Regions from separate parts of the Homo sapiens genome. Here regions 1 and 2 are each linked to region 3. Evidence: fine-mapped expression QTL. A gene starts in region 3. Each other region holds a variant in brackets. All regions are shown on one strand. Distances are between the middles of the regions.

The links. PIP is the estimated chance that this variant, and not a neighbour inherited with it, causes the effect. A credible set is the group of variants that fine-mapping cannot tell apart.
Region 1: its variant is the best candidate, but not a certain one, in a credible set for the expression of FAM30A in whole blood (INTERVAL, PIP 0.62).
Region 2: its variant is the best candidate, but not a certain one, in a credible set for the expression of FAM30A in whole blood (INTERVAL, PIP 0.83).

Annotation. Positions count from the first base shown.
Region 1 is chr14:105,922,540-105,929,668 of GRCh38, forward strand. FAM30A (family with sequence similarity 30 member A) reads left to right here. Exons shown (of 6, transcript NR_026800.2): 4 at 2-104; 5 at 476-583; 6 at 1,797-7,129. It also overlaps IGH. Among named protein-coding and RNA genes, the nearest start is that of FAM30A, 8.1 kb to the left of the region's middle. The variant A/G (reference allele first, on the strand shown) is at 2,940.
Region 2 is chr14:106,792,692-106,799,820 of GRCh38, forward strand. It overlaps IGH. Among named protein-coding and RNA genes, the nearest start is that of MIR5195, 55 kb to the right of the region's middle. The variant C/CTT (reference allele first, on the strand shown) is at 3,989.
Region 3 is chr14:105,914,757-105,921,885 of GRCh38, forward strand. It overlaps FAM30A (family with sequence similarity 30 member A), which reads left to right and starts at 3,223. Exons shown (of 6, transcript NR_026800.2): 1 at 3,223-4,061; 2 at 6,394-6,502. It also overlaps IGH, IGHD2-2 and IGHD1-1.

The DNA.
Region 1 (7,129 bases), 7.8 kb after region 3:
GCAAGAAGGTCCTCGCCAGATGCTCCTGGACTTGCTTTGGACTTTCCCTTGCTCTTGGACTTGCTCTGGCACCTGTGCTCTTGGACTTCACAGCCTCTAGAACTGTGAGAAATAAATTTCCGTTCAGTATAAATTTCCCAGTCTTGGGTATTCTATTCTAACAGCACAAAACAGTCTAAGACAACCCCAAATTCAGACCTAAGGTGAGATAACCCCAACCAATATCTAAGGATCCCCTGCTCCAGACCTTGGTGGTGAGGTCAATACAGGACTCCCTCTGAGGGAAGCCCTGACAGCGATGCCTGGGAAGGCATCTCTAGGGCCCAGTGGGCCAGGGGAGGCCCAGGACACACCTGCATCATCTCTCATAATCCCTCCATTCTGTTATAACAGGAGCATATGCTTATAGCATACTTTAAAAATTAGCCCAAAACTGAAGGTAAGCATCGATTAATTGATGGACTCCTTTTCACAGTTTGGTCTTTGTATTTACACCAGTCATCTCACAATGCGTGTTGAGCTTTGCACCCTTTTACCAAATGAGGTCACCCCATGAATGCTGTCATGTTATCACAGATATGCGGTAAGTATAATTGGGAATGTTTGCGGAATAATCCCACTAATTTTACACCACAGTCATCTCACAATGCGTGTTGAGCTTTGCACCCTTTTACCAAATGAGGTCACCCCATGAATGCTGGCTGTCACGTTATCACAGATATGTGACAAGTATAATTGGGAATGTTTGCAGAATAGTCCCACTAATGTATGCACCATAATTTCTTCAGGCACTATCTTGCTTTCAACTATTTTATAATTATAAATAATGTTCTGAAGAATGTCTGTTCACAAAGTGTTTTCCTTATGTGTGCTAGCCATTTGTTTTCTTTTAGAAATTGTGTTATATCCTTTTTGCCGATTTCTTAAGGGATTTGTTCTTTTTCTTATTAGCTTATGTATGTTGTTTGCATAATAATGGTACAAGACCTTTACATATTAGATTAATATTATTTGAGTTTATTATTTACTCTTGTTTTGATGATTTTTAAATGTAAAGAATCTGTAAAGGTGTTACCTAGCTTCATGATTTGGGTTTGCAGTGAAGCCTGCCCAACTTTAGGCAGCTGTCTGGGCCTGTGTTTCCAGAGCTTGAAGGAGTCTCTGCTTCCCTCTGGAGGGCTGGTGTGATATCAGTGTTCTCTGTCCAGGCCTGGGTGCCCTCCTGGGTCTGGGCTTGGGCTGGGCTCTTAGATGTCTCAGAGAAATTGAGACTCTATTAATCATCTGAGTCTTTCCATTTCTGGTGAGATGATCATGGGTCATCATTGGCCTGAGTGGTGGGATGAGCTATAAATAGTTCTAAATTCCTGGTGTAAGTCCTTGTTCAACGAGATGGACAGAATTTGGCCTTCTAGGATGTCATTTATAACATTTGGCTCTTTGCCAAAATGCAAGTTAGCCCATGTTTTACTCTGGGGACTGTGAATTGTGATCCCTTTAATAGACTTTCCCATGTTCCTCCAAATCCTGGAGCAGTTCTTATGGGAACTGATTAGTTTTGTGAAAGTCTAAACTTCACCCATAAAGCCATCTTGGCCTGAAGTCATCTGTGAGGGCAATTATTTAATAATCTTAATGCTTTCTTGAGGATTACTGTTCCAATTATGATTTCCATTTCTCCTTGAGTCAGCTTTAAGTTTTATTGCTAGAAAAGAAAAATGCCAACTTGCCGTCATCTCTGCTGTCACTATTTTGTGTTCAACAATTGCCTTCTCTATCTGCTGTATCTTTTTCAGCACAGAAGCTGTAATGTTATTAAACAAAGCAATGTATCCAGATCACTCAGAATCTATGCCTGTCACGGGGAGCAGGAGAAGAGGGTGAATGAAGAGCCACAGCATGGCAGGGGAGCCACTGCAAGGATGCTGAAACTCGTGTGAACAGAGTTGCTGTAGGCAGGCTGCTATGGAACCTTTTGGGGAAGCACTGCCTCTTAGGGATGGCAGTGAAAATGGGAGAAGAGGGTGGCATTGCCTCCAGATGGAAGATGTAGTGCTTTGCCTTGCTCCTTGGTGCTTGGAGAGGGAAAGGGATGCTGCTGTAAAGTTCCTGGCTGGACTTTGGCTTGATAAAGCACGGGCACCTTTGGGAGTATGAGGGTGGGTGGGTGTGCACATCTTCCATGAGGAGCTGTTAGTATTGGGGCAGACGTTTCAAGTATGGCAGACAAAGGATGTTCTGCGTGGGGAAATGTGGTGACACCCATTTCACAAGGACAGCTCACATAGATTGAGTGCTCAGGAAGGACCAGCACCATACCCAGTGCCTGATGTGTATCATCTCAATTAGTCCTTGCCTCAGATGCAAAAGGAAACCATCGCCATCATCATCACCACCATCATCATCTTCCTCCTGTGCAGATGGAAAGGCTGAGGCATAGAGAGGTGACGGAGTCTGCCCAGGACTGCAAGCCTGCTGGTGGCAGAGCCAGGTTCCAATGGAATGAAGGCTGTCATCCTCAGATGGCAGGGTAGGCAGGTGGCTAGAGCTCACTTGGGAGAAGGGGAAAGGACACTGACTTTGGCTAGGGATGGAGCAGAGCTTGGGCTGGCTTTCCATGCACGGGCAGGGGGCGTGGCTCATGGCTACGCTCCAGCCCCGGGTGTGGACATTGAATCTTCCAGGTCTACCCTAGGCTATGGGTCTGGACAGCACTGTGATGGAAAGAAGACACTCTATGTCCTGCATTCTGTGACCAATGATGTGACTGTGGGAATGGCGCTGGCATCTGGCTGCCACTCTGGGACGGGTGGCCAGCTGCCATCAGGCCCCACCCAGGATGGGACCACCATGCGACTTCTTCCCTCGCTCCTCCTGGTCATGTCCAGAGCCCCAGGAGGACCAGCAAAGCCTCTCGAGCCGATGGCAGCTCACGTTCT[A/G]CCTTGTCAGCTACTCCTCTCCTGGGCAACATTGGCTGCTTGCTGTGGCTCTCCCCGGGGTATGTGACTGCCTCTGTGCTGGGCACCTGGCCTGGGCTTTCCTTCTGGGCCTGGGCAGCTGGGCTCAGCTTGGACCCAGGCAGCAGCCACAGAGGGGCCCATGGAGGTGACAGAGTTGCTTCTATGATGGTGAACGGGCAGCTGTGACACGGAGGAGGCGACCACTCCTCAGTTTCCAAGTGCTGCGGTCAGGGCCGGGGCCAGCAAAGTCCCTCCCATATTCAAAGAGTGGGTTTGGGTTTGTCCCAGGAGGACATAGTCAGGAGCCCATGCTGGCACATGCCTCCTCCAAAGTTCAGCCTGGATCCCCAGCCTCTGCCAACGGCCCCGCTCCTTAGCTAACCCAGCTTGCTCCTGGGTTCCACGGCGGAGTCAGATGTTTCTGGGCAGTTTCACCTTTGTGCCTTAAATGCATGTTGAGGACTTTAAGGAATTGTGGAGAAATAGGGCTGTGGCAAAGGCAAGTGACAACTGGGAACAATGATCCTGCAGAGGCTGCTGAGGCCTGGGCCCCAGGGGCGTGGGTTCATCCTTCTGCCTGGGCTTTGGTGGGAGGGGCAGACTCTGTGGTCTGAGACACAAAAAAACCCAAAACATACGTGTGTACAGACACACAGCAGAGCCACACACACACTTGTGCCCATGCACACACTCACAGGAGGCCCGTGGACTCCGCACAGGGAAGAAACTCCTCCGGTCGACAGTGGACGGCGCTGCAGCAGGGACTCACCCCCAAGCCCTGCCTGCCTCCCATTGCCCACCTGGCCCTGGCTTGATGGGCTTATCTCATGCTGTGGCCGGGGACCTCTTGCTTCCTGCAACCCCTTGCTGGACTGGGGCCTGGGCCTCTCCTGGGCTGTGCCTAGGGTTTGTAACCCAGGGCCTGTGCCGGCGTGCACAGAGCATCTCTCCCTGGGAGGCTCAGGGCTGCCTCCTCGAGCTCTGTGGGCCTGCACTGGCCGGTGAGCTTGTGGTGTGGGTTTTCAGGCTGTATCCTTCTACCTCCTGAGCCCAGGGGTCCCAGGCGCCCTGCAGCTGTCTCCTCGGCCATCCTGTGGGGCCCCGAGGCCTTGCCCTCACTTCAGTGCCTGGGTGCTCAGGCTTTGCCCAGGTGCCAGGAGAAGGTGTGAGCATGAGCCTATTGGACACACCTGGCGACGTATACCAGGTGTCCCACCCCTGCCACCATGGGGCCTCCCGATACGGCAACCACCACGGACCTGTGGGGACCAATGAGGAAAGAGAGAGGCAGGTCTGGGCCAGGCTCACAGGGACTCCGGCATAGCAGACCCTGCCCCAGCAGGCCCCCTTGTCCTTCCTGGGTCCTGGTCCTTCATGAGGAACTAGCCCATCCCTGGTGGGGCTCCCACCCCGCTTCTCAGTGGGCTCTATGCTTGCCTCGTCGGAGTCACCCCTCAGGCAGTCCTGGGATCCTCTCCTTTAGACCCACTGTGCCTTCCCGGCCTCCCGGGCTTCTGCTGGGGGCAGAAGAAATGCCTCCCCAGGTCTGTCTCTGGAGGCTCTGAGGGAGATGGGCTTGGGGGCTGTAGGAGGAGGCAGGGATTCCAGGGTGTCAGGAAGGCAGGGGTGCCAGGTCCCACCTAGTGAAGTAATAAACCGTGGGTGGTGATAGTGACCCAGTGCCCTCACTGCCCAGCCCCGCCTGTCCTCAGCCAGCACTGCAGGGATCCCAGGCCCAGACTCTGGAGGCCTTCACTGATCCCAGCCACCCCAGAAAAGCTGCAGCCTGCAGGCACCAGCCGGGCCATATGCCCAGTGCCAGCTAGGGCCCACCGCCCATCCTGCACACGGGGCCGCTGGGCAGGTGCCCCTCACACCCCCAGGATGTCAGTGCTCACCTCGAGCAAAGCGCCCCAGCTCGGCCTTGGGAGGTGGTCGTGTCCAGGGGGATGATGGAGAGCTGTCCAACCAAGAGAGCGGGAGGGAGGGAAGGAGGGAGGGAGAGAGATAGAGAGAGAGAGAGAGAGAGAGAGAGAGGAAGTGTGGGCCCTAAGGCTGCCTTAGTGGAGGTGCGCGTGGCCTGCACCTCACCAAGCCTAGCCACTCTCGCGGCTCTGAGTGGCTCACAGGCTTGTGAGGGCCCCGTCGCTGCCTGCTGGGTCCCCACCAGGGCTCCCTCTAGGAATGCGCCATGGCTGCTATGACAATTTGCACAGCCCAGTGGCTTAAACACCATTTATACCACAGGTCCAGATGAATCCTGCAGGGCCAAGGTCTGGGGGTGCTGGAGGCCATGCTCCCTCCAGGCTTGCGGGGAGAACTTCCCTGCCTCCTCCAGTCTCTCCATCCCTGAGCTCTCGGCTCCTCCTCCGTCTTCAGGGCCAGGGCGTAGCGTCTGCTCTCTCGGCCTCTGCCTCCGCTTCCCACCTCACCTGGCTTCTGTCTATGTCAGTCTCCCTCTGCCAACCTCCTAGAAGGACACTTGTGATTACATTAGGGCTCACCCCTTTAATCCAGGGGAGCCTCTCCACTTCATGATTTTCAGCTAACTTGCTTCTGCAAAGACCCCCTTTCCCTATAAGGGCACACATTCACTGGTCCCGGGGCTAAGGACCTTGCTCCAAGTCCCTCCACCCATGATGCTGTGCCTTCCAGAAACCTGTCCTCTGCAGCTCGGTCTTGACCCCAAGCCTGCTGGTGACCTGAACTTCACAGGGTTATCCCCTTGGACTGTGTGCAGCACGATGCAATTTCTGGGCCTGAATGTCATGCTCCCTGGGGCAGGACCTTGAGCCTGCAGCACACACTAGGCCACCTGCAGTCTCACAGGCCATGCCCTGGGTAGACAGGGAGGTGCTCAACCCCAGCTCGGGTCCTCTAGTCTGCCTGGCTACCATGCTTCTCACTCTCCTGCATCTGCAGACCCTGCGTTGCCATGTGAGGCAGGGGTGGGGTGGGGCTGAGGGCGTGGCTTTGGTCCCTGGCTGTCCGGATGAAGTACCAGAGTGACGCCACAGCCCATCCCGGTGACATGCTCACCCCCAACCCCCGTGTCCGGGACCCCGGTCTTGTGTGGTCCCTGATGTGGAGTCCTCAGTCCTTAAGATACATCCAGAAAGTCCTGGCCATGAATTGGAGGTGCAGAGTCCTGCAGAGCCTCTGGGCTGGGCTGGTGCCCCCAGGAGATGGAGGGCCTGGTGGATGCCCTCCTCCCTCAGAGCTGGGGCAGCTGCCTCCCAGGGGTGGGACTCTGGGCTCAGAGAGAGGCCCTTGAGCTGCAGCTCAGGGGGATGCGAGGCTTCGTGGACTGTGTCCTGGTCCATGTGGTGCACGTGTCTCCACCTCCAAGGAGAGGCTCCTCAGTGTGCACCTCCCCCACATCCGTCCTCTCTGCCGGCCCCGGGCGTCTGAGCAGTCATTCCATGCCAGCACCTCTGCAGCCTGCTGGGCCTCAGGTTCTCTGTGAGGGACCTCCCCGGCCTTCGGCGGAGGTGGAGTAAGCTCCGTCAAGGCAGGTGGCTTCGTCCCTTCCTGTGAGTGACACCAGTGATGAAATGGACCCCTCCACACAGGCATCCTCAGGGCACAGGGCCCTGGGGGCACCTTCCTCCTTTCGTATTTGTTGAGAAAAAAAGTGGCATTGCGCTCACACCAGGATGCTGGAGCAGAGCTGACATGCTCGGGAAAGGGCAGAGGTCACTGGGGGTGGGAAGGTCATCCAGTCCAGACTCAGCACCTCGTGGGCTGGTAAACTGAGGCTCAAAGTGCTGGTGCCAGGCCTGAGGCCTCGCGGTGACCCCTCTCTCTGGTTCCCAGCACCTGCCTGAGACCTGCCCCAGGCACCCATAACCTGGAATTCCCTGTTTCCTTGTCCAGGGCCTGAGGAAATGGCTCCCCAGGTCTGTCTCTGGATGCTCTGAGGCAGATGGGCTTGGGGGCTCTAGGAAGAGGCAGGGACTCCAGGGTGTCAGGAAGGCAGGGGTGCCGGGTCCCACCCAGTGGAGTAACAAACTGTGGGTGGCGTTTGGGCCTCCCCGCCTTCCCCACTGGGTGTGCTGGTGCTGGCGCTGCTGGGTCAGGGCTGCCCGTGACCCCAGACACCACTGTCCATCCTGTGAGGCTCCCGTCTGGGCATGTCCTGGGTGGATTCCTCCTTTCTGTTAAGTAGC
Region 2 (7,129 bases), 880 kb after region 3:
TCTGGCATGTTTTTCTAGGAGTAGCTCTTCTTGTGACTGACACACTGTAGCATACACAGTGAGCACTGTCTCAGTGGCTTCTCAGAGTGCAGTCAGGAAGAACCACTCACCTGATAATGCAACAGCCTGGACATCTGACTTTCACTTTGTAAGATGCACCCACTGAAGAGGTTCTTCCAGAACTTTTGGCATTGTGGCGGTATCCCCATACTCAGGCACTGGGCCCCATCCATCATGGATAACGGCTGTTGGGCCCCACGTAGAAATTAACAGCCTGCCCAAGGTTTCTGCAGGGGTCTCCTCTTTTTAGATTCCATTGTCTGGGTGCTCATGAGATTTTTTTTGGACCTTTTACCAGGTTGACTGGATGTCACGCCAGACCAATATGGACTCCAATAGGACTGGCATCGTGTACAACAGGCCAAACCAGTGAACAAGACATATAGTTTATTGAGGGCTTTCATATAGGGTGGTTCAGGAACAGCAGGCTGGACAAGAAAACTACAACCATTTGACAAAACTATGCAGCTTATGTAGTAATTTTTACTTAACACCCTCCACCTAGCAACTTTCATTTAACCCAAAAGAAAGAGCCTCAATCACCCCTAAATCCTGTGTTCCAAGGGATCGGTCAGGGGTTTGGATGTTATTCATAGATTAAAAAACAAGTCTCTGGGTCTGCCACTCCTGGATTCCTTAGCTTGGAACTTGAAACATACATTTCTTTTTTCCTTTCTGATTATTCTGGCTAGGACTTTCAGTAATACGTCCAGTAGGAGTGGTGAAAGTGTGCATTCTTGCTCACGTTCTTCAGGAATATTTTTGCAACTTTTTCTCATTCCATATAATGTTGTTTTGTTATATGTGGCTTTTTTTTTTAGTTAAAGTCATTCATTTCTTCACTACCAAGTCCAGCATATTGAATAAATCAGTTGCATAGGTTTTTACTAAATTTAAGAAGATCCCTGTTCTATTGATTTATTTAAGAGTTTTTTGTTGGTTGTTGTATGTGGCTTTTATAGTTTTGAGGTAGGTTTCTTTGATGCTAAGCTTGTTGAGGAATTTTTCATGAAGGGATATTGAATTTTATTGAATGACTTTTTTGCATTCATTGAGATGGTCTTATGTTTTCTGTTTTTAATTATGTTATATGTTGAATCATATTTATTGATGTGTTTATTTTAGACAAGCTTTGCATCCCTGGAATAAAACCCAATTGGTCATGATGTATTATCTTTTATTGTGCTGTTGGTTTCAGCTAGCTAGTATTCTGTTTACTATTTTGTATCTATGTTCATTAGGGATATTTCCCTGTAGCTTTTTGTTGTTGTAGTTGTATCCTTGCCTGATTTTGGTATTAGGTGATACGAGTATTTTAGACAAAGGTGGGAAAGAATCTCTTCTCTTTAATCCTTTGGAATAGTTCCAGTAAGAATGGTACATCTGGTAAAATTAGACCTTGAATTTATCTGGTTCTGGGCTTTTGGGGTTGGGAGATTTTCAGTTTCTGATTCAGTCTTATTACTCGCATTGGTCTATTTAGGATTTCTTTTCCTTCCTGGTTCAATTTTGGGGGGTAGTTGAATATTTCCAGAAATTTATTGATTTCCTCTAGATTTTCTAGTTTGTGAGCATAGACATATTCAGTATGTCTTGATAATCTTTTGTATTTCCATTGGGTCAGTTATAATACCACCTTTATCATTTCTGCTTGTGCTAACTTGAATCTTCTGTCTTTTTTTTTTTGTTGACCTAGTTAGTGCTCTATCAATTGTGTTCATGTTTTAAAATAACCACATTTTGTTTTGTTGATTCCTTATATTTTGCTTTTTTGTTTCAATATTTTTGAAATCTGCCATGATCTTTATTTATTTTCTTCTTCTAGCTCTGGGGTTGGTTTGTTCTAAAATATCTAGTTCCTTGAAGTAAATCAATAGATTGCTAGTTTATAATCTTTCTATTTTTTCATAGACATTTAGAACTATAAGCTCTTAGTACTGCTCTTCCTGTATCTCAGAGGGTTTGGTATGTTGTGGCTTCATTTTTCTTTGTATTTTTAAAAATTAATATCTTAATTTTATTGGTGAGCCAATGATTGGTCAAAATTGTGTTGTTTAATTACCTCATATTTTCATAGTTTCAACAGTTTTTTTGCAATTGATTTTTTTAATTTTATTTTTTTTATTACACTTTAAGTTTTAGGGTATGTGTGCACAATGTGCAGGTTTGTTGCATATGTATATGTGTGCCATGTTGGTGTGCTGCACCCATTAACTCATCATTTAACATTAGGTATTTCTCCTAATGCTATCCCTCCCCACCGCCCCTCCAACCCCACAACAGGCCCCAGTGTGTGATGTTCCCCTTCCTGTGTCCATGTGCTCTCATTGTTCAATTCCCACCTATGAGTGAGAACATGTGGTGTTTGGTTTTTTGTCCTTGCGATAGTTTGCTGAGAGTGATGGTTTCCAGCTTCATCCATGTCCCTACAAAGGACGTGAACTCATCATCTTTTATGGCTGCATAGTATTCCATGGTGTATATGTGCCACATTTTCTTAATCCAGTCTATCATTGTTGGACACTTGGGTTGGTTCCAAGTCTTTGCTATTGTGAATAGTGCTACAATAAACATACGTGTGCATGTGTCTTTATAGCAGCATGATTTATAATCCTTTGGGTATATACCCAGTCATGGGATGGTATATACTCAGTAATGGGATTGCTGGGTCAAATGATATTTCTAGTTCTAGATCCCTGAGGAATCGCCACACTGACTTCCACAATGGTTGAACTAGTTTACAGTCCCACCAACAGTGTAAAAGTGTTCCTATTTCTCCACATCCTCTCCAGCACCTGTTGTTTCCTGACTTTTAGATTTATTACATTACTGTGCAATAAATAACTAACATCTAGAATCTAACAAGAACACAGACAACTCAGCAACAACAACAAATAAATAAATTACACCATTAAAATGTGGGCAAAAGACATCAACAGACATTTTGTGAAGAAGATATTCAAATGGCCAAAAAGCATATGGAAATAAAAAGCTGAACAACATTAATCATTAGATAAATTAATATTAAAACAACAGTGAGACACAACTTTACATCAGTCAAAGTGCCTATTATTATGAAGTCAAAAAATTATAGATATGGATGAGAATTCAGAGAAAATGCATTTATACACTGTTGTTGGTAATGTAAATTAGTGCAACCTATGTGAAAAAAATTGTAAAGGCTTATCAAGCAACTAAAATAGATCTATCGTTCAATCAGCAATCCCACTCCATGATATGTACCCCAGAAAATAAATCACTGTTACAAAAAATGCCTGGTCTCAGAGCCAGTAATTCTTTGCCAAGGCCAATGCAGAGAAGAGTATTCCTAGGTTGTCTTCCTAGCTTTTTGTAGTTTGAAGTCTTAGTTAAAGCTATAATCCATTTTGAGTTAATTTTCTTTTTCATATGGTGATAGTCACGAGTCAAGTTCCCATCTTCTGCATATGGCTAGCAAGTTATCCCAGCACCATTTATTGACTAGGTTGTCTTTTCCCCATTGCTTGTTTATTTTTTTCAGGGTTGTCAAAAAACAGATGGTTGTGGGTGTGCAGCTTTATTTCTGAGTTTTCTATTCTATTTCATTTGTCTATGTGTTTATTCTTGTACAAGTACCAAACAGTTTTTGTTACTGTGGCTTTATAGTAGAGTTTGAAGTCAAATAGTGTGATGTCCCTGGCATTGTTCTTTTGGCTGAGGATTACTTTGGCTGTTTTTGTTCTTTTTTGGTTACATACAAATTTTAGAATACTTTTCTTATATTTCTAGAAGAATAAAACTGGTATTTTGATAATAACATTGAATCGATAAATATTGAAGGATAATATTGCCATTTTTGCAATATTATTTCTCCCATTCCATGAGCATGGAATTTTTTTTTCAATTTATTTGTTTACTTTCTGATTTCTTTCTGCAGTGTTTTGTAGTT[C/CTT]TTTTTTTTTTTTTGCTAAAGACTAGTTTACAAAATACTTTATTGAATCATCTTATTTTGGTTTGCAGTTTAGAGCAAGTTACTTAGATAAAATATATGTTCTCTACCTACTCAAGAGACATTAAGGATTTTCGTTGTAATTGTTTTTTTTAATTATACTTTAAGTTTTAGGGTACATGTGCACAATGTGCAGGTTTGTTACATATGTATACATGTGCCATGTTGGTCTGCTGCACCCATTAACTCATCATTTAGCATTACGTGTATCTCCTAATGCTATCCCTCCCTCCTCCCCCCACCCCACAACAGGCCCCGGTGTGTGATGTTCCCCTTCCTGTGTCCATGTGTTCTCATTGTTCAATTCTCACCTATGAGTGAGAATATGCGGTGTTTGGTTTTTTGTCCTTGCGATAGTTTGCTGAGAATGATGGTTTCCAGCTTCATCCATGTCCCTACAAAGGACATGAACTCATCATTTTTTATGGCTGCATAGTATTCCATGGTGTATATGTGCCACATTTTCTTAATCCAGTCTATCATTGTTGGACATCTGAGTTGGTTCCAAGTCTTTGCTATTGTGAATAGTGCCACAATAAACATACGTGTGCATGTGTTTTTATAGCAGCATGGTTTATAATCCTTTTGGTATATACCCAGTAATGGAATGGCTGGGTCAAATGGTATTTCTAGTTCTAGATCCCTGAGAAATTGCCATACTGACTTCCACAATGTTTGAACTAGTTTACAGTCCCACCAACAGTGTAAAAGTGTTCCTATTTCTCCACATCCTCTCCAGCACCTGTTGTTACCTGTTGTTTCCAAGGCTACAGTAACCAAAACAGCATGGTACTGGTACCAAACCAGAGATATAGACCAATGGAACAGAACAGAGCCCTCAGAAATAATGCCACATATCTACAACTATCTGATCTTTGACAAACCTGACAAAAACAAGAAATGGGGAAAGGATTCCCTATTTAATAAATGGTGCTGGGAAAACTGGCTAGCCATATGTAGAAAGCTGAAACTGGATCTCTTCCTTACACCTTATAGAAAAATTAATTCAAGATGGATTAAAAACTTAAATGTTAGACCTAAAACCATAGAAACCCTAGAAGAAAATCTAGGCAATACCATTCAGGACATAAGCATGGGCAAGGACTTCATGTCTAAAACACCAAAAGCAATGGCAACACAAGCCAAAATTGACAAATGGGATCTAATTAAACTAAAGAGCTTCTGCACAGCAAAAGAAACTACCAACAGAGTGAACAAGCAACCTAACGAATGGGAGAAAATGTTTGCAATCTACTCATCTGACAAAGGGCTAATGTCCAGAATCTACAATGAACTCAAACAAATTTACAAGAAAAAAACAAACAACCCCATCAAAAAGTGGGTGAAGGATATGAACAGACACTTCTCGAAAGAAGACATTTATGCAGTCAACAGACACATGAAAAACTGCTCATCATCACTCGCCATCAGAGAAATGCAAATCAAAACCACAATGAGATACCATCTCACACCAGCTAGAATGGCGATCATTAAAAAGTCAGGAAACAACATGTGCTGGAGAGGTTGTAGTTCTTCTTGTAGAGATCTTTCACCTCCTTGGTTAGCTGTATTCCTAGGTATTTCTTTTTTTGTAGATGTTGTAAGTGGGATCGTGTCATTTATTTTTCTCTATGCCTGGATGTCGTTGGTGTATAAAAAAGCTACTGATTTTCGTATATTTATTCTGTATCCTGAAACATTACTAAAGTTGTTTATCAATTCTAGGATTCTTTTGGCAGAGTCTATAGAATTTTCTATGCATAGGATCCTATCAACAGCAAAAATAGATAGTTTGAATTCTTATTTACTTGTGGGGATGCCTTTTATTTCTTTCTCTTGTTTGATTTCTCTGGCTAGAACATCCACTACTATGTTGAATAGGAGTGGTGAGAGTGGGTATTCTTGTTTTGTTCCAGTTATGAAGGGGAATGATTTGAGCTTTTGTTGATTCAGTATGGTGTCAGTTGTGGGTTTGTCATACATGGCTCTTATCATTTTAAGCTAAGTTTCTTTGATGTCTAGTCTGTTGAAGGTTTTTATCATGAAGAATGTTGAATCTTATTGAAAGTTTCTCTGGATCTATTGAGATAATTATATAGTTTTTGCTTTTGATTCTGCTTATGTGGTGGAGCACCTTTATTGATTTGTGTATGTTGAACTAGCCTTGCATGAAAGGAGTAAAATCTACTGGATCATAATGTAATAACTTTTTAATGTGCTGCTATATTCAATTTCCTAGTATTTTCTTGAAGATTTTTAGGTCTATCATCAGGAATATTGGTCTAAGATTTTCCTCTTTTGTGTATCTCCCAGATTTTTTGTTCCAAGGACACACAATAAGGAAAAGATTGCCTTTTTAACAAATGGTGTAAAAACTGAGCATCCATATGCAGAAAAAAATGAGACCTCATCTCATCTCATATACAAAAATCACCTAAAAATGTACTCAAGGCTTGGATATAATATGATATCTAAAATTGTAAACTCATAGAAGAAAACAGGGAAAAAAGAAGCTTTCCAGAGTTGATCTGGAAAATGATTTATTTGGATTCGACACCAAAATCATAGACAAATAAATTACTTGAAGCTATATATCTGACAAAGGGATCTATCTAAATGTGTAAAGAACCCATACAATAGCAAAAAAAACCCCTGATTTTTAAGAGGGCAAAACTGTACATAGACATTGTATTCAAGGGAAGACATATGCATGGCCAGCAGGACATGGAAAGGTGTTCCACATTGCTAATCATCAGGGGAATCCAAATCAAAACCACAATGAGATATCACCTCACGTTCATTACCATGACTATTATCACAGACACAAAAGATAACAAAATGCTGACAGTTAGCTGGTGAAAAGAGAATTATTCAGTGGAGTGGTAGTAAAAGTTATTTTATAAATTGAAAGTAAAACTATTACGTGATCTGGTGATCCCACTTCTGGCTGCGTATTCAAAGGAAATAAAATCAGTAAGTAAAAAATATGTTTATTACAAGATTATTCATAATGGCCTAGAATTTTTTTAAAGTTAGTGACCGTAGGTAAATGGGTGTATAAAGCAAATGTATACACATACAATG
Region 3 (7,129 bases):
TGCAACCCTGGATGAGCCCCTGCAGCCTCAGTGCTACTGAGGTTCCAGCAAGACCTGGAGCAGGTGCAGATGAGGCCTGAGGCCAGGTGAAGCCCAGGCCAGGTGAGGTCCAGGCCAGTGAGGCCCAGGTCAGATGAGGCCCAGGTCAGGTGAAGCCCAGGTCAGGTGAAACCCAGGTCAGGTGAGGCCCAGATCATGTGAGCTCAGGACAGGCAAGGTCCAAGTCAGGTGAGGCCGAGCTCAGGTGAAGCCCAGAGGTGAGGTCTAGGCCAGGTGAGGTCCAGGCCAGGTGAGGTCCAGGTCAGGTGAGGCCCAGGTCAGGCAAGGCTGAGGTAGATGTATGAGACTTCTGTAATTTTCAGTTGGTGCCAACCCTGCCTGGTGTCCCTGCCCCTCCTCCCAGCCCATGCTCTGTGCCTGCCAGATGGCGGCCCCTGCACAGGTGCTGCTGGCTGTGGAGGAGCTGGGCTCTGCCTCCCTGTGCATGGGCGTCCCTCTCGGGCTCTGGCCTGGGAGTGTGGCTGAGTTGCTTGTCTCCGGAATGTACCAACTGTGCCGTCCTTGGGGGTATATGTCCTCGGGGGGATACGGCTCTGTGCCTGCTCCACATCAGGCCCCAGGAGCTGCCAGCAGGTACCAGCCTGCCCTGCCACACAGTGTGCCTGCAGCCTGTCCGGGGATGCCCAGGGAGGTGAGTGCCACCACATATCAGGCCTTTTCTCTTTAAAGTCATTTCTTTGGGGATACATCATCAATGTCTCATATACTGAATGTATGTCTGTATCATTGTGCAATTGCCTGTGTCATCGTTTATTTATCCAACCTGGGTTAATGTCTTTGCTATTATGAACAGTGCTGGACTGAGAATTTTCTAAACACAGCTGTGTGCATTTTCCTCTTCTTGCAATTTAGAATTTTAACTGCTGTTTTCAAGGTACTGTAATGTATTTGTTCTCTTCTTGTTAGGAGACTTGCCAACCCTGTGTGTCTCAGTTCATACCCTCTTCCTTCCCCAGTAGAAGTAACGACCACTGTGTTTATGTGATCATCCTTTTCTTGATTTTCCTTATAGTTTTCCTAGTGGAAAGTTTATCCCTTAAGAAGATAGTTCATTTTGCCGGCTGTAAATTTTATTTAGAAGAAATCACATTGAAAGTATTTTTTGGACTTTCCTTTGTTACTCCAATTACTCAGCATTGTCATGAACTCAACCACAGAGTCACCTGTAACCCTCACTGTTGTCCTTCTGGCTGTCTGGGTTTGCATTTCATGAACCTGCCATCGTTTATTTGCCTGTTTTCCTTCAGATGGCTGTTTGCTTCATTCTCAGTTTGGGGCTATGACAAACATATGTTCTGCACATCTTTGCCCATGAGGCTCTCAGGGAGGGCTCTGGAGCTGGCATTGCCTGCAGGGCTCTGCTTTGTTGCAGGGAGTTCCTGCCAAGGCTTTTCAGAGTGTCTGTGCCCAGCCTGAAGGTACACACTGTACTTTGCCCTTGCATCAGGCACTTTCCTTGTGCTTGCTTCTGTGTGGCTCCACATTCTGGAGAATTTATTCAGATCTGTGCTGCAAATCCATTTCACTGATTCTCTCTTTAGCTGTGTCTACATCAGCTGTTAAGCATCCCATGATGCAGCATTGTGGGCACAGGGCAAACTCTTGAAAGATGACAGTGTAGGATAGCGGCTGCTTCTCCTTCCCTGTGCCCTTCCCACACTGTCCTCCTGGGCTCACTCCCAGCCATCGATCTTGAACACCAGTTTATGGAACTATCTGCACAGGAAAGCAGAAACAGCAAAAGGCCCTGCTCAGGCTCTGCCCGCATCCCCTCTTGCACACCCGCCAAAGCTCTTTCCTTGGGGCCTGTGCAAGCTTCCCAGCTGCTTCTCATTTTCTGTTTACTCTGCTCACTGGCCAGTGGGGTGATGTCTGGGGGGGAGTCTGGTGCGTTTTGGGCATTGATGGCCACCCCTAGGCCCTACTTCCCAGACGCTCCCCCCAGCCCCTCAGCTCCAGAAGTGGAAGCGTTTACAGCAGGGCTTTGGGAATGGGGCTGTGTCACTGTGGGCATAGCAGCTGGTACTACTACAATATCCTCACAGTGACACGAGCCCCCACAAAATCCTCCTGTCCCCGCGGGAGTCACTGAGTCCCCTCTTGCTGTCTCTGGCTAGTTCTCCTGCTGATACTATGATTTCCAGGGGGTTTTTGTCTGAAACTCAGGGTGTGTTGGAGAGGACTCTGAGCCCAGTGCTGTACAGGGGGCTCCTCCTTTGTCCTGGGGGAGTTGCGTGGACCCTGTTTTTGGTCAAGGGAAGTACTTGCTGGTGAAGGAGACCTCCCCTCCTTTCTTTCTCAGGAGCCCCCTCTGATGCCGTTGCCTGGTGTTTCTCAGGGCTGGTGCTGGGGGCTCAGCAGTGTCTGCCCTGTTCCAGGTGGGAATGTGGGTCTGTTCTGTTTCCACGCGGTGTTCTGGGGCCGCCAGTGAGGGGCTCGGGATGTCAGCGGCTGGTCTCTGTCCCTATGGTCTGGGCTCCGGTTCACTGCTCCCCTGCCCTCCAGGTCGGTCACTGACTCAGTTACTATCCAGCGGGCTCCGTGGCTGTTCAGTGGTGGCTGCAGGTCTCTTCCCAGGAGAGGCCTGCGAGAGGGCTGGGCTGTCTGGGAGCCCTGCATTCTCCCATGATGTTGCTGCCTGGATCCCTCGTCTTTACAGGGAGTGCCGAGCCTCCCTGCAGGTGCGGGCAGTGAGAGACACAGGCGGACGTGCATCAGGGTGCTGGAGGCCGATTTCTTTCAGTGCCTTCTGCCTGTGGAAGGGCTGAGCTCCCTGCTTCTGTGCACAGGAGGCTGCCGTGTAACCGGGCAGTGAGGGCAAGGGCCTGCATGGGGAAGACTTGGGTGAGCCTTTGTCCTGGAAATACCAGGGCTGGGTCCAAGAGGGGAGCAGGGTCAGAGTGTCCAGGAGGAAGGTGAGGGCATGGGCAGTGTGGGGGTGGGAGTGCACGGTCAGTGCCATGGCTCAGGGGCCCCAGGAGAGGAAGAGCTCGAGTTGTGGGCAGGAGGAGGCAGGGGGTAGGCACAGAGGGTAGAAACTGAGGCTCTGGCAGCAGAAAAGGGGAGGGCCTGCATGTGCAGGGTTGGCCTGGGAGGGGTGTCTGGAGGGAGAGACAGGGGTCTGGGTGGAGACCAGGGTGTAGGCTGCAGGGATGGGACCCCAGGGTTGTCTGGATGGGCAGGAAGAGCAGCGGGGGAGAAAGGGCTGGAGGCAGGGTTGGGCCTCCCCAGGGTGTGGGGTGCAGGGAGGGGCTGCACAGGCTGTTCCCCTGAAGGAGGGAGGAGGGAGGGAGCACAGAGGTGCTGGGAGCAAATGGAGAGGGAAGTGGCAGCGGCCCGAGTGCCAGGCGGTCCCGGTTTGGGGTTGATCTTTGTGGAACAGCTCCCTGGCCCGTGTGTAAGTGGTCGGGGGAGGCACGGAGGTCTGGAGCTACAAGCGGTGGCAGGAAGGCAGGTCCCAGTCTTGGGGGTCTGGAGCTTATCTTCTTCCTGTGAACTGAGTGTGGGCAGCACCTATGGGCGGTGCCCTGGACCTGTGGTCTGGTGGAGTCCAGGCCTCCCAGGGACAGCAGGGCAGCCAGGGCTAGAGGAGCCTGAGGGTCCAGGTCAGGGTGGCCCTGGGGCCACTGCCTCCACCTTTGACCAGCTCTGCTGTGGGGATCTGGGCATGAGACCCCTTCACCCAGGAGGGGAGCCGCGTGAGTGAGACCCTAAGTCCATACCCCATGGGGGGCTCTGACCCTCCTGCATAGGGCCTGGACAGGGGTGGGTGGGGTGTGCGGGGGGCGGTGGGGAGCCCAGACTCTCCCAGACACAGCCTGCTCTGCTCCAGAATGTGGGCTTGGGCACTGCAGGCTGGCTGGGTCTGGGCTGCCTGGTGTGCCTGTGGTGGCTGCATTCCCACAGCCGGGACTGAGGCCTAGTGAGGACCAGGGAGGAGCCTGAAGGGAGCTCCATGGAGGACCTGCCTCGGATGACACCCCTATCTTAAGAAGGTCATGGTGGGTTCCAGCTGGGAGGAAGGGAAGTGGGCCACCTCCTGGGGGTCTTCCACCCCCACCACCTCAGCCTGGGGCCTCTGTGATTCCTCTCTGCACAGACCCCAAAGTCTGTGCTGCCGCAGGGCAGGAAGGAAGGGCCTGTGGCCTGGTCGAGGTTGGGGCCACAGTGGTGTTCCCTAAGCCCGAGTCTGGTCTCATGGCCCGCCCCGCAGCAGGTCCTGAGTGAGGGACAGAGACCGGGGCGGGGTCTTTGGTCCTGGTGGACTCTGGGGTGGATTCCAGTGGGGAGTCATCAGGGTCGGTGTCCCCCAGGGTACTGGGGTGTCTCTGCTCCTGGAGTCGGCTCTGGATGTGGGGTTTATGCCTGTGCTGCCTGGGGTTGATGCTGGGAGGTGCCAGTGACCCCCGTTTCCCTGAGGGACTCTTGTCGGTGGTAGGGTCAGTTCTGGCCAGGAGCACTGGGACCATAGCAGTAGGATGGGGTCCAGCCCCTTCCATGACCCCCTGGAGCCCTGGTCCCCGTCCTCACCATTCAGTGGGGTTCAGTGGGGACTCCACTGTGCTCTGGCTGCTGGGGGTCGTGTGAGCTGAGCAGGACCTAGGTTCGGGGCGGCTGCTCCCCTCTCTGGCGCGGCCTCCAGCAGGGGCCAGGAGAGAGTTTTGGACACAGTTTTTCTCACGGTGGTCGTTCCAGTTGTACCCACCGTGACTCGGGGCTGTTCAGAATCTGCCCCGGCGCCCTGAGCTCTGGGGCCTCCTGGATGGGGGCTGGGCTTGTGGGCGGCATCTCCTTCGGGGGCTCTGGAGGCTGGGGCTCGCTTTAGTTGTGGGGTGAGCACTGGGAGCCCCAGTTAGCGGAACACCCACAGAGACCGGGGCCTGTACACATTCCGCCCCGGTGTGTGGGGTGGGCCCAGGCCCCTCTGGGCAGGTCAGCTTCAACGGGGAGGGTGCTTGGGTCCTGTTAGTTTTCCTCTGGGTTAATAGGATTCATCTCCTGGCCCCAGATCCTCATAGGCTGCCCCTGTCCCTCCAGCAATGCAGGACATGGCAGGTCACCCTGGAGGGAGGCATGTTCTGGCCTGGGCGTCAGGTGTGGCACCTCAGATCCTCCATGCGTGCTGTGGGCTGAGCAGGACAGCAGACGACCCCGGGCCCCCACCCTGTCTATGGACATTTTTTGCTGCAGCAGCTGTGGGAGCTGACAGTGTTCACAGCCACACCAAGGTCATCATTGTAGTCAAGGCTTTCTAAAAGTTTCATTGTGAGGAAGCCTCCTATTAAACGGCGCCTGGGCCCTGCTTCCTGAGGGTTACTGCTGAGTCCCGGATTTCCCGTAGAGGCGACGAGAGGAGAGCAGAGGGAGGAGGAGGGGGATGAGCTGGGCCCTGCAGAAGGGGGTGCTTGGGTTGGGGTCTGTGGAGTGAAGATCTGGGCTCCTAGGGGCCACCCAGACAACCATCCTCCCTGTTCACACCTTGAGGGTCCCAGCAGGAGCCAGGTGGGGAGACTGTGAGGAGAGGGCCTGTGTCTTGTCTTCCTTGGGCCGTGGGACAGGGTGGAGGTTGAGGGCGTCTTTCCCAGGGGATCACAGAACAGCACCTCTGCTGTGGGGGGGCATCCAGCACGGGGGGCTGGGCTGTGGGGTGCAGGGCAGGAGGGGGCGTGCACGGGAGGGGTGTGGCCCAGTCATTCCTGCATTCACAATCTTTCTTGTCCTGGGCACCTGCACTAGACCCTCGCCTGGAGGGGGCGGCTTCCTAGCCTGCAGCGTCCCTGGAGTCTGCTCTGACTCTGGACCTGGGGACAGGAGCCAGGCAGGAGGTCAGCAGCCTCCTAGGACAGCAGGAGGGCCCAGGCCAGTGCCTAGCAGACTTCTGCTGGAGTGGGGTCCCCGGGGCAGGGAGATAATGATTTCTAGAAGTGTCTGTGTCTCTGAGTGTGCAAGTTTGTCCAAACTGTCCACCAGGTGTGATTAGGTAAACATAGGCAGACTTGAGTTCAGGTGGAGGAAACTGAGTTTTGTCCTTAACTCCCTACCGACTCTAGGGGAATGAGCCAAGCTCCATTATCATCTGTGCAGAGGCCACAGCCTTGTAAAGGGAGGTGGTAGGGGAGCAGGGAGGGTGCTCGGGGCTCAGTCGTCGGGGAAGGGAAAAGTTGCCCAGCGCTGGTCAGCGTCCCCGGGATGGGGCCAGTTGTGTCCGTGCCGGCCACTGTTGAGGTCAGGATTCTGTCCTCCCAGAGCCTGGAGACACAGGCCCCATCCTTCCCAATGGGGACACTTCAGGGAGCGGCTCTCAGGTCCCGAGAAAGACCTTCCTGGCCACAGGAGACACACGGACATCGGGAACGGACGGAGGAAGGATGTGCAGTTGCAGCCTTTTCAGCAGACGCCCTGAGAACGGGAGGTCAAGAGTTGGAGCAGACGGTCAGTTCTGGTGCGTGGAGCTTTCTCAGGCAGGTGTTAATGGGGCTGGGGTCAGCCTAGGGGTGTGACCTGAAGCCACTGGAAGCCTTGCTGGGGTCTGGCTCTCTCTTGGTGCGGGGGGTGGAGGGAGCCCTGACAATAGAGCACTGGGGGGCCTCCAGGAGACCATCCCTGCAGCAGCTGGGCCATGCTCTGAGGACCAGGAGACCATCCCTGCAGCAGCCGGGCCATGCTCTGAGGACCAGGAGACCATCCCTGCAGCAGCCGGGCCATGCTCTGAGGATGTGGGACGAGGACCCCCACTGTCTCTGAGTGTAGGGTGGTGACTTCTTTGCACAGACTGGCCAGGGGTCCCCCAGGGGCACAGTACAGGTATCCCTGGGCTGCAGGGCTGGGGGACATCAGAGCGGCTCTCTGGGCTTGGCAGCCACCTCAGGTGGGATCAGAAGGGGAGGCAGTGCCTGGTGCTTCCCCTCCAGGCCTCTCTCCATGGTGTCCAGGGTAGTTTCTGGGGCTTTGGTGCCAATTCCTCAGGCCAGGGTCCTACCCTTCTTGGTGCCGTGATGCTTGGGGGCTCTGGAGGAAGCCCCAGCTTTGGCCACTCCTGCACTGCCTGGGGCTCCAGTCCTGCTGCGCC